Linked DNA regions of Homo sapiens: region 2 is linked to region 1. The links come from fine-mapping of genetic effects on gene expression. A gene starts in region 1. The other region holds a variant in brackets. All regions are shown on one strand. Distances are between the middles of the regions. Region 1 holds the start of NECTIN2 (nectin cell adhesion molecule 2). Region 2 overlaps NECTIN2 (nectin cell adhesion molecule 2).

The links. PIP is the estimated chance that this variant, and not a neighbour inherited with it, causes the effect.
Region 2: its variant is fine-mapped to the expression of NECTIN2 in whole blood (TOPMed, PIP above 0.99).

What each region holds. Positions count from the first base shown.
Region 1 is chr19:44,843,654-44,849,157 of GRCh38, reverse strand. It overlaps NECTIN2 (nectin cell adhesion molecule 2), which reads right to left and starts at 2,861. Exons shown (of 9, transcript NM_001042724.2): 1 at 2,545-2,861. The coding sequence starts at 2,632. RefSeq lists an enhancer at 169-1,151 and silencers at 2,791-2,890, 3,021-3,100, 3,181-3,230, 4,098-4,497.
Region 2 is chr19:44,871,396-44,876,395 of GRCh38, reverse strand. It overlaps NECTIN2 (nectin cell adhesion molecule 2), which reads right to left. Exons shown (of 9, transcript NM_001042724.2): 3 at 4,247-4,543; 4 at 2,363-2,480; 5 at 1,918-2,066. Among named protein-coding and RNA genes, the nearest start is that of TOMM40, 17 kb to the left of the region's middle. The variant T/G (reference allele first, on the strand shown) is at 2,760.

The DNA of each region.
Region 1 (5,504 bases):
GTCTCTGACCCCATTCCTAAATCTGTGTCTGACCGCTTCCCTCTATTGGCCTCTGTACCCATCCTTGTAGCTCCAGCCTCTCTATATACCCACCCCCCAACTTCTCCTCTGCCCAGTCCCCCTTCCCTAATGAGAGGAGACAGCCAGGCTGCCGTCCCTCTGCTCCCCTCCCCCTCCACTACGTGGGGCTGCCTGGCGGACATGGACACACGGATGGGCAGGGAAGAAAGCTGGGGGAGGGGAGCCGGCCCAGCTGGGGGCCCAGGTGGTGCACCCGCATTCCCCGAGGAGGCCAAGCGGGGGAGGCAGTGGAGCTAGACAGGTATACAGAGAAAGACGGAGAGGAGAGAGAGAGATGGGGAGAGGAGAAGAGAGAAAGAGCTTGGAGAGGGATGGAGAGAGAAAGGGTGAGAAACGAAGAGAGATGAAGAGGGGGAAAGAAAGTGAGGGAAGGAGGAAAACAGGGAGGGGGAGGGGAGAGAGAGAGAGAGGGAGAGCGAGCACATGCCAGCCGGCCAGCCAGTGGACAGCAGAGGCGAAGGATTGGGGTGGGGGTGGTCAAGAAAGGGGCCGACAGCTCCTTCTCCAGGGGCTAAGAGGTTTCACAGGGAATCAGTGGGGCCTGGGAGCCTTCCGGATGGTCCGCAGGGAAAGGATTGTTATCTCAGTTTTTTTACGAGGGAGGAAATGGAAACTCAGAGGCACTTCCTGGAGCCCACCCGGTGCGGGGCTCTGAAGAACCGGAGCCCGGCTTCCCCGGGACCTGCTGTGAGACCTTGAGAAGGCTGCTTGCCTTTGCTGAGCCTGTTTCCTCATCTCTAAGATGGAAACAGAAACAGGACCTGTTTCCCAGGGCAAGCTGGAGCCTTCGGTGAGATCATGCACCAAGCTAACAGTAGGCTCAGGGTCTGGTGGGTTCGGAGAATTCACCCAGAGGTGCCAGTTCTGATCTCATCTGCCTATTTCTGCCTGAAGGGAGAGGCAGGGGATGGAAGCGGAGTTCCCAGCTCTGGGTCAAAGCTGGGAGGCCAGTGAGAGCCATCCTGGGGGAAATGAGGCCAGAGAGGTGGCCGGGGTTCCCCCAAGATCCCCCTGAGCTCTCTTCTGCGCAAACCCTCGGGAAACTCTAGCATCCCAGAGTTTGTCGCTGGGAATACACAACCGGGTCACCTGCAAGGGGCGGGGCCAGCGCCTCTTTCAAGGGTTCCCTCCCAGCCCCTCCCTCCCCAGGGGGGCCGCTCTCCTCCCCTAGTGGGGTGGATGGAAGGACGCCAGGGGGTCCAAGGCATAGCAATGGGAGGGACGGGGGATAAGGGCGGCGGCTCCACTCGTCCACCTCCTGCTATGGCTCTGAGGACAAAGGCGCTACCAGAGGATAGATAAGGTCCCGAAACCGGGGAGTCCGGAACCCGGAGCCAGGAGCGCCCGCCCCGCCCCTCCCTGGCTCGGCGAGAGTGAAACCAGGAAAACTTCCCCGGCGACGTCTCCGTCGCCCCCGACCATTCATAGGGAAAGGGAGGAGTCTCCCAGCCTCTGGGACTCGGGGCCTCCCGTTCTATCTGGGACTCAGGCGACTGAGACTCCAGCCTCAAGACAGAGCCTTCGACCCTTGATCATATCTGGAGCCCAAGAGACGGGGCCCGCTGCTCGCACTTCTGTTTGGATCTCAGAAGACGTTCCTCTGCCTACAATTAAGTCTGAAGCCCACGAGATCGAGTCTCCTGTCCCCCGGTTCTGCCGGGAACCCTGAAAACGAAGCCCCCTGCCCACAATTAAATCCAGAAGCTACAAGTTTGATCCTCTCTCGCCCCCAGTTTTACCTAGATCCCAGTTAGACTTAGCGCCTAGCCTCCATTCTACCAGGGACCCTGAAGACGGAGCCCCCGGCCCCTAATTTTTCTGGAGTCCACGGAGTCAGAACCCCCAACTCCCTGAGGTTCGGGGTTGGAGCTCCGAGCTCAGGCCCTTCCCCCTAAGTCGCCAGAACTCTTATCCTTAGCCCTCCAAGGGACCCGAATCAGGTCCGCTTGTCCTCAGTTCTCTCCGGGCCTCAGACGCCCAAGCCGGGAAGAAGGAAAAATAGGGGAGGGAGGTGGTCTCGCCTCTTCCTCGAGACCTTACTGCGGTAGGTGGGGGGAACATTCCCCACATTCCTGAGAGGGGTAGAGGAGACAGAGACCCAGATCCGGGTGAACTACTCGGCGCGGGGTGGGGAGGGGGCACCAGGCCTTCCTGGGATTTAACCCTTTCGGCGCGGGAATCCGAGAAATGGGGAGGGGGACAGACAAGCAGGCGTAGGATGGGCAATTGGATTAAGAAGGATGGGGGTGGTGGTGAGAGAGATGCAGAAAGGAGGGGTCAGAGTCTCCTCGAGAGAATCGGACGTGTAGGGGGTCGGAGTCTGTGGGGCCAGCCAGGAAGGGGGCACGCGAGAGGGGGCTCGGGGAGCCGGGGGTGGGCGGGGAAGGTGCTCGGCTTCCCCAGCTCGGAAGGTAAGGTTGGAGGGGGTCCGCGCGAGGGCAGGGGGCCGTCCGCTCGTCTCACCGGTTTCCAGGAGCAGCAGCAGCAGCAGCGGCCACAGCAGCGGCGTCGGCGGCGATCTCGACGGCAGGAGGGCAGCGGCCCGGGCCATGGAGGGCCCGGGAGGGGACTGGGCCCGGCCGGAGGCCCGCGGGCCACTCTGTGGGGGCCGATCGGCTGGGCGGTTTAGTAGGTGCCTGTGGGGCTCCGGCTCCGGCTCCGGGCCGGTTCCCGCTGCGCTCTAGCCTCCCTGTTCTGCTCTCCCGGCCCAGCTCTCCCCGCCCGGCTCGGCACCCCCGGCCTCTCGCTCAGCTCCGGCGGTTCGAACCCGCTGACGTCACAGGATCCACCCGCTGCTCCCCCGAGTCAAGCCGACCCTGGCTCCGGCCCCGCCCCCTCCTGGCGTTCTGACCCCGCCCCCCGGATTCCACCCCTGTTCCTCCCCGGGATTCCATTCTCGCTCCTCCCCAGGATTCTAAGGTCGCCCCTGCCAAAGAATTCTGTCTCCTTCGCTCCCGGCGTTAAACCACGCCCCCTAAGGTCTAGCCACGCCCCCTCTGCTCCCGAGTAGTTCCCACGCCCCGCCCCCTGCCTACCGGCCGCCTCGCCAAGGTCTTGCCACGCCCCTTTCGGCCCTTCCGGCCGACTCCGCCCCCACCAGCCCCGCCTCCACCAGCCCCGCCCCTCGCCCTAGCCGGAGTTCTCTCGGTCTCTTAGCTCAGTCCGTCCTGGCCTCTGTCCCACCCACAGTTCGAATCCTGCCCTTTCCTGCCTGCCCGGGTCCTCTCATCACAGTTGCCTGAGGCACGTGGGGCTTTACGGTTCTGCCCCCAGCACGTCCCGGTTGTGCGACCTCCCCGCAGGTCGAGCCCATCGCCCTGAGCCTGTTTCTCGTACCCTCGTGCGTTTCTAATCTCTGCCCCGAACTCTAGGTGTCGCTGCACTCGTTTCTTTCTGGATTTCTCTGTCTCTCTTACGTGTCTTTGTGTCTCTCTCACTCTCTTTGGGTCTTCCTCTCTGTCCCTGTATTTCTGCCTCTCTGGGTCTTTCCGTCCTCATGCTTCGGTGTCGCTCTGTTTCTGGTCTTCCTTTGTCAGTCACTGTTTCTTTATTTCAATAAAAGAGACGGGGCGGGGGGGCGGCGGGGTCTCACTATGTTGCTGAGGCTGGCCTCAAGCGATCCTCCCGGCTCGGCCTCCCAAGATGCTGGGATTACAGGCGTGAGCCACCAAGCCCGGCCTGTCTGTCACTGTTTCTGGGTCACTTGGTCCCCATGTCTCTTTCCATCCTTTGACTCTGTCTCTGTGTCTCTCTGTCTCTATCTGTGTGCCTCTCTGTCTCTGTCTCTATTTCTGTGTATCTCTGTCTCTATCGGCCTGTCTCTGTGCCTCTCTGTCTCTGTGTGCCTCTCTGTCTCTGTGTTTCTCTGTCTCTATCTCTGTGCCTCTCTATCTCTGTGCTTCTCTGTCTCTGTCTCTCCGTGTGTCTCTCTCTGTCTCTATCTGTGTCTCTCTGTCCCTGTCTCTTTCTCTGTGTCTCCCTCTCGGCGTCTCTTGTCTCTGCGTGCGAGTCTCTCTCGCTGTCTCTCTGTCCCTGCTCTGTTCTCTGCTTCCTTCCCTCCCTACCTCCCTGCGCGCCCTGGTCCTCCCCTCCCAACACCTGCTCCGCGCCGCCTTCTCACCGCAGCCACCCGCCAGGGGGCAGCAGAGACCGGCCCCCGCGCTGCGCTGGCCCGGCCGGGCTGGGTGGGGCTGGGCTCCAGTCCGGCCTCCGGACCTGGTCACTCCCCGCGTCCTTGTCCCACTTCCCCTATCTCCCCAGCCTCCTCGCGTCTTTGTGTCTCTCGCTCAGACTCGGGCCCTTTGTCTCTCCCAGCGGCTCGCCCTCCTCCCTACCCCCACCTACCTCTTCGCATTCTTTGGGCTGCCCAGGGGGAGCTGGTGAGGCCGCGCCGGGGGGCGGGATGAGGGCGCGAAGCGGGAGGCCGGGGGAGGGGGTGCCACGGAGCGCCAGTCTGGGCCCAAGTTCGTCCAGGGCCAGGAGGCGCGGAGCTGCTCAGCTGGGGGCAGGTGCTTGGGGGCTTCTTGCCCTAGCAAGAGGACCACCTAGGCTCGCCCTCCCTTCCACCTGCCACACACCTGGGCTTTCCTCCCCAGAAGGACTAGGTTTCAAGTAGCAGAGGCTGTTATCCCTCCGCATTCGAGTCTTAGTTATGATCCTTTTTTTTTTTTTTTCTTTGAGACGGAGTCTCGCTCTGTCGCCCAGGCTGGAGGGCAGTGGCGCGATCTCGGCTCACTGCAACCTCTGCCTCCTGGGTTCAAGCGATTCTCCTGAGTCAGCCTCCTGAGTAGCTGGGATTACAGGCGCGCGCCACCACGCCCGGCTAATTTTTGTATTTTTAGTAGAGACGGGGTTTCACCATGTTGGTCAGGCTGGTCTCAAACTCCTGACCTCCTGATCCACCCGCTTCAGCCTCCCAAAATGCTGGGATTGCAGGTGTGAGCCACCGCGCCCGGCACTTACGATACTGTTAATACATGTAGTCAGCACTTACCGTGTGCCAGGCACTGATCTAAGTGCACTGCGAATATTATCTCATGTAAGCCATGCAGCGCCATGGGCGATAGGGAAACTGAAGCAGAGAGATGAAGTGACTCACTGAGTTACAAAATGGCAGAGCCAGGGCGGGGCGCCCTGGCTGACGCCTGTAATCCCAGCACTTTGGGAGGCTGAGGCGGGTGGATCACTTGAGTTCAGGAGTTCGAGACCAGCCTGGCCGACATGGTGAAACCCTGTCTCTACTTGGGAGGCTGAGGCAGGAGAATCGCTTGAACCCGGGAGTTGGAGGTTGCAGTGAGCCGAGATCGCACCACTGCACTCCAGCCTGGGCAACAGAGTGAGACTCAGTCTGAAAAACATAAAATAAAATAGAAATTAAAAATAAATAAAAATAAACAAAATGGCAGAGCCAGAGCTGACTCTTC
Region 2 (5,000 bases), 27 kb before region 1:
TCTTTCTCTATTGCGTCTGTGTTCTGCAGGCTCTGACCTTGGAGCCACCTGCTGGGTGTGTGGGCAGGGGATCAGCTTGTCAGGTGTATCTGGGGTAGAGGTTAGGGGTGTATTTCCAGTTCGGTGTCTGTCTGGGCGGGTGGAGCTGACCCTCCCCTGGGTGTGCTACTGAGGGCAGGGACTGTGGCTCATTCACCATTGTATTCCCAACCTCAGCAAGAGTGCCTAGCAAACAGGAAACACATATTTGTTGAATGAGAATCTCCCTAACGGACTTTCTGGATAATTTCGGAGGAGTTTCGGGGAGTTTCGGGAGGGTTCCTGGGAAGAAGCTCCTCCCAGGATGTCTTTGATTTTCCGTCTGAGGGTCTGTGAGTGAGGGATGACATTCCTCCGTGTGCAGCCGTTGCTGTCCTGGATTAGTTTTGCCCCCAGCGTGTCTGTGTGACGTCTTCCTCCGGGGACTTATGTGCATCCTCACGCGCCAGGCGAGCCCAGAGCGGGACAGCTGTCTCTCTGGGTTTGCTGTCTGTGACAGTGTTTCCCGTAGGGGTGTCCTATCTCCCTGGCTGTATCTGGATTCCTGAAGAGGTGTCTGTTTTCCCTCGGGTGTCCCTGCAAGTGTGTGTGCATTCTAAGATTATGACTCAGTAAGGGGGTCTGCTTCTGTCCCTCCGTGGCTAGTCTGTCTGCATGACAGGGACAGCCCCTGTCTGGGAGTTTGTCCCTACACCTTCAGTCATGTTTCTGGGGGGCCTGCACATTGCGTGTTTGCACAGGTGTGCTGCATGGACCGTCGCCCTGGCGTGTTTCTAAGAATGTCTTTTTCTGGCCAGGCGCAGTGGCTCATGCATATAATCCCAGCACTTCGTGAGGCCGAGGCGGGTGGATCACCTGAGGTCAGCAGTTCGAGACCAGCCTGACCAATATGGTGAAACCCTGTCTCTACTAAAAATACAAAACTTAGCCGGGTTTGGTGGTGAGCGCATATAGTCCCAGCTACTCAGGAGGCTGAGGCAGGATAATTGCTTGAACCCGGGAGGCGGAGGTTGCGGTGAGCTGAGATTGCGCCACTACACTTCAGCCTGGGCGACAGAGCGAGACTCCATCTCAAAAAAAAAAAAAAAGAATGTCCCTTTCCAGGTGTCATCTGGCTTCGTTCAGTCTATCTTGGCTGGTGCCACTGTCCTCCTGGGTGTGTGTCTTGGTGACAATGGGTTTGAGCGTGCAGGGTTACCATCCAGGTGAGTGTCTGGATTCTGATGCATCTCTGCAACAGAATTTCTCAGCACAGGGAGTGTCTGTGGCTGTGGATCCTGCCAGCTGTGGCTCTGACAGGAGGGGTCTCTGGCCCTATCTCCAGGACCCAGGGGTCTCTCTGTCCCAGGAAGCATGGCTCTGTTAACAGTCCCGGCCGCGCTCTAGGTGTGTGGCCCTGCAGTTGTGAGTTTGACCCAGTTTCCATCACTGGGTGATGGTCTGGCTTTGTGCTTTTCCTCTTTGGCTCCGTGCCTTGGGGCCGGATTGTGTTTCTGGGGGTGGGAGCTCTTGGTTTCTGTCTCTTTGAAGTTTGCATGCCTGACTCTAGGTGTGCGTCTTTCTCAGGAGCTGGAGCCCAGGGCAGCTTCCTCGGGTCTATTCGTGAGGACCCTACCCAGGCCTCTACTTTCTAGGAACCCCGAGCAAAGTCCTCAACCCCCCAACTCTGCTGCCTTCACCTACCCCGACACCCCAAATCCAGACCCCAGTCTGAGGCCACGAGGGGAAGGCCAACCCTCATCTCCCCTCAGCCAGGCAGGTCTGCATCCCTCCCAGGTCGGCGGCGCAGCCTCCCCCAGTGCAGCCCCAAGTCCTGAAGGGCAGAACTCCAGGGGAGCGGACCCAGGTCTCCACACACGGCCCCCAAGACCCACTCACCTCGGACAAAGATGACCTGCTCAGCGCGGCCCATGCCCACGGCATTGGTGACTGTGCAGACGAAGGTGGTATTGAACAGACTGTCCACTGCGTGGATGACCAGCTGGGAGCCCTGGGCCACTGCGGAGGTCGGGAAGGTGCCTGAGGTCCTGGAGGGGTGTGGGGTCAGGTGAGAGGGATACCAAGGTCGAGAGGGGAGCACAGGCCTCATCCCTAAAGATACACCCACCAGGAGCCAAGCTCCAGGGACCTAAGTACTCCCGGAGACCCCAAATTGCCAAAATGCAAGCTCCCTTCATCCTGGAGGACTTAGGAATTTAGGCCCAGCCCCTCCTCCCTCAGATCCAGGAGTCCAGGCCCCCAGCCCCTCCTCCCTTAGATCCAGGAGTCCAGGCCCCCAGCCCCGCCTCCCTCAGACCCAGGGTTCTGAGACCACGTGACTCACGTGCTCCAGTCATAGCCCGTGGGCTCTGGGTTGCTGCGGACGTCACAGCTCAGGGTGGCATCAGTACGGCCGAGGTACCAGTTGTCATCATAGCCGGAGATGGACACTTCAGGAGGGTCTGGGGGAAATGGGGGGACTGGATCAGCAAGGAGGAGAATCCCAGAGCGGGTGGACAAGTTAGCAGATAGACAGGAATGCTAAAGAAACGGGGCGGGTTGGCAGGAGGTACAGCAGTCAAAACTGTCTGGGGCAAATCAGTCCAGGCTGTTGTGTGCTGATGTCAGTGTAGACACTGTTCAGGGAAACCACTGTGGATAATTTTGTGGGAGTTATTGTTCAGTGCTGGCAGTGCCTAAGGGAGCCACTACAAATAATGTGTGTGTGTGTGTGTGTGTGT[T/G]TTTGAGACAGGATCTTGCTCTGTTGCCCAGGATGGAGAGCAGTGGGGTGATCCTGGTTTACTGCAAACTCCACGTCCTGGGCTCAAGCCATCCCTCCGCCTCAGCCTCCCAAATGGCTGGGATTACAGGCATGTACCACCACGTCCAGCTAATTTTGGTATTTTTAGTACAGACAGGGTTTCACCATGTTGCCCAGGCTAGTCCCGAACTCCTGACCTCAAGTGATCTGCCCGCCTTGGCCTCCCAAAGTGCTGGGATTGCAGGTGTGAGCCACCGCACCCGGCCTGTGTGTGTGTTTTTGGCATGGAGGGAGGATGTCAAAACAGGGTTTGGGCAACCAGTGTAGGTCCCGGGAGGAAAGTGGCACAGACGAGGCTCAGGGGAGCTGTTGCACTTATGGGCGCACGTGATGCATGTTGCCTGGGGGAGCTGGTGTAGACTTGGCTTAGGGAATCTGTGTAAGTGGAGGCATTGCCTGGGGAGCTAGTGTAGACAACATTGAGTTGGGATATGTGGTCATTTTGGACAGTGGTGGAAGAGGTGGTTAAGCCAGTATTTGAGGGATTCTGTGTGAAGAGTGCCAGGGTGGCCTCTCTGGGTAACATTACGAGGTGTGAGTATAGGCAGTTTCTGGAAGAGCTAGCAAAAAACCCAGTGGGAGGGGTCAGGATCAACAGGGCCCGGGGGGTGGAGCCTGTAATGTAATATATAATATAATGTAATTATATTATATTAAATAACAATAATAAATAATGACAAAATATATGTTAATATATAATATATAATTTATATATTTTATATAATATATAATATATAAAAATATAATAATAAATAATAAATAATAAATACAATGTAAATAATATCAAGGATCAGGGGTCGGTGTAGAGACTCTGGGAGACTCAGTATAGATGGCACCTAGGGAAGTCAAGGCAGAAGTATGGGAAGGTGTGGAGACGATGTTAGGTTGGGCAGTGTAGACATGTAGACATGTGGACATGGCCCAGCATGATTGATCTAACGGTCCAGGGGCAGTGTCAACCGGGGTCCATGGGAGCCAGAAAAGACACTGTTGGGGGCAGCTCTTTGCTGGTAAACCAACTCTCTGGGGAATAAAAGAAGCCCCCATTTCTAGGGTTTGCCAATTTCCTTGGTGTAAATATTCCCCAAGGTTGATTTCAAGCTACCGAGAAGACTTCATTGGATGTGGAATTGGAAAGAAATGTATCAAACTGGCTCTTGCAAGCCCATCCCAGGTTACCACAGACTAGGCACAGCATGCAGGAACCCAGTAAAGCCAATGTAGACAATGAGGGGGAAGTATGTAGATTTGCCCATGGGAGCCAGTGTAGACAATGGCAGGAAGGTAGTGCAGAATTTGGCTTCAGGGAACCCACGTAGACAACATTCAGAGACAATGTAGACAGTGCTTTAGAGAAGCCAGTGTAGGCAGTTTTGATGGGGGAGGGGTCACCCCCGATACACTCACAGCGTACAGAGAGGGTCACAGGTATCAGGGCTGGTTCCTCGAAGCTCTCATGCTCCACTTTGCAGGTGACCGTGACACCATCTGCTCGGCCCGAGGGCACCAAGGTGAAGCGGCTGGTGACAGTGACAGTTCCGGCCAGGGTCCCTGACACCTGAGTCTCTTTGGCTTCCCAGTCCAGGGATGAGAGCCAGGAGATCCGGGCAGGTGGGCGGCCCTCTTTGGAGATGCAGAGGGCCACTGTCGTAGGGTCCTGGCTGAACGTGACCTTCTGGGCCTCAGCTTGGTTCTTGGGCTTGGCTGGGGAGAGGAGGAGAGGGGGTGCGTCACTCCTCACCGGCAGTCATTCAACAAACACTCAGCAGAGGAGCAGGGTGGTTAGGCCCTAACTGCCGGGGTTCCAATCCCAGCTCTGCTGCTTATCAGCGGCCTGGCTTGGGATAAGTGGTTTTGCAACTCTGTAGCTGTTTCTTGTTTTGTAAAATGGGGATAATGAAAGTACCCACCCCTAGGATTGCTGTGTGAATTAAATAATACATTGATAGGTAAATGGCTTAGGGTAATGTCTGGCCTGCACTGCCCTATCCAAGTGTTGCCCATTTTATTTTACTTTATTTATTTTTTAGAGACAGGGGCCCGCTCTGTCACCTGGTCTCGAGTGCAGTGGTGTGATCATAGCTTGCTGCAGCCTGCACCTCCTAGGCTCAAGTGATCCTCCCGCCTTGGCCTCCAGAGTAGCTAGGACCATAGGCATGCA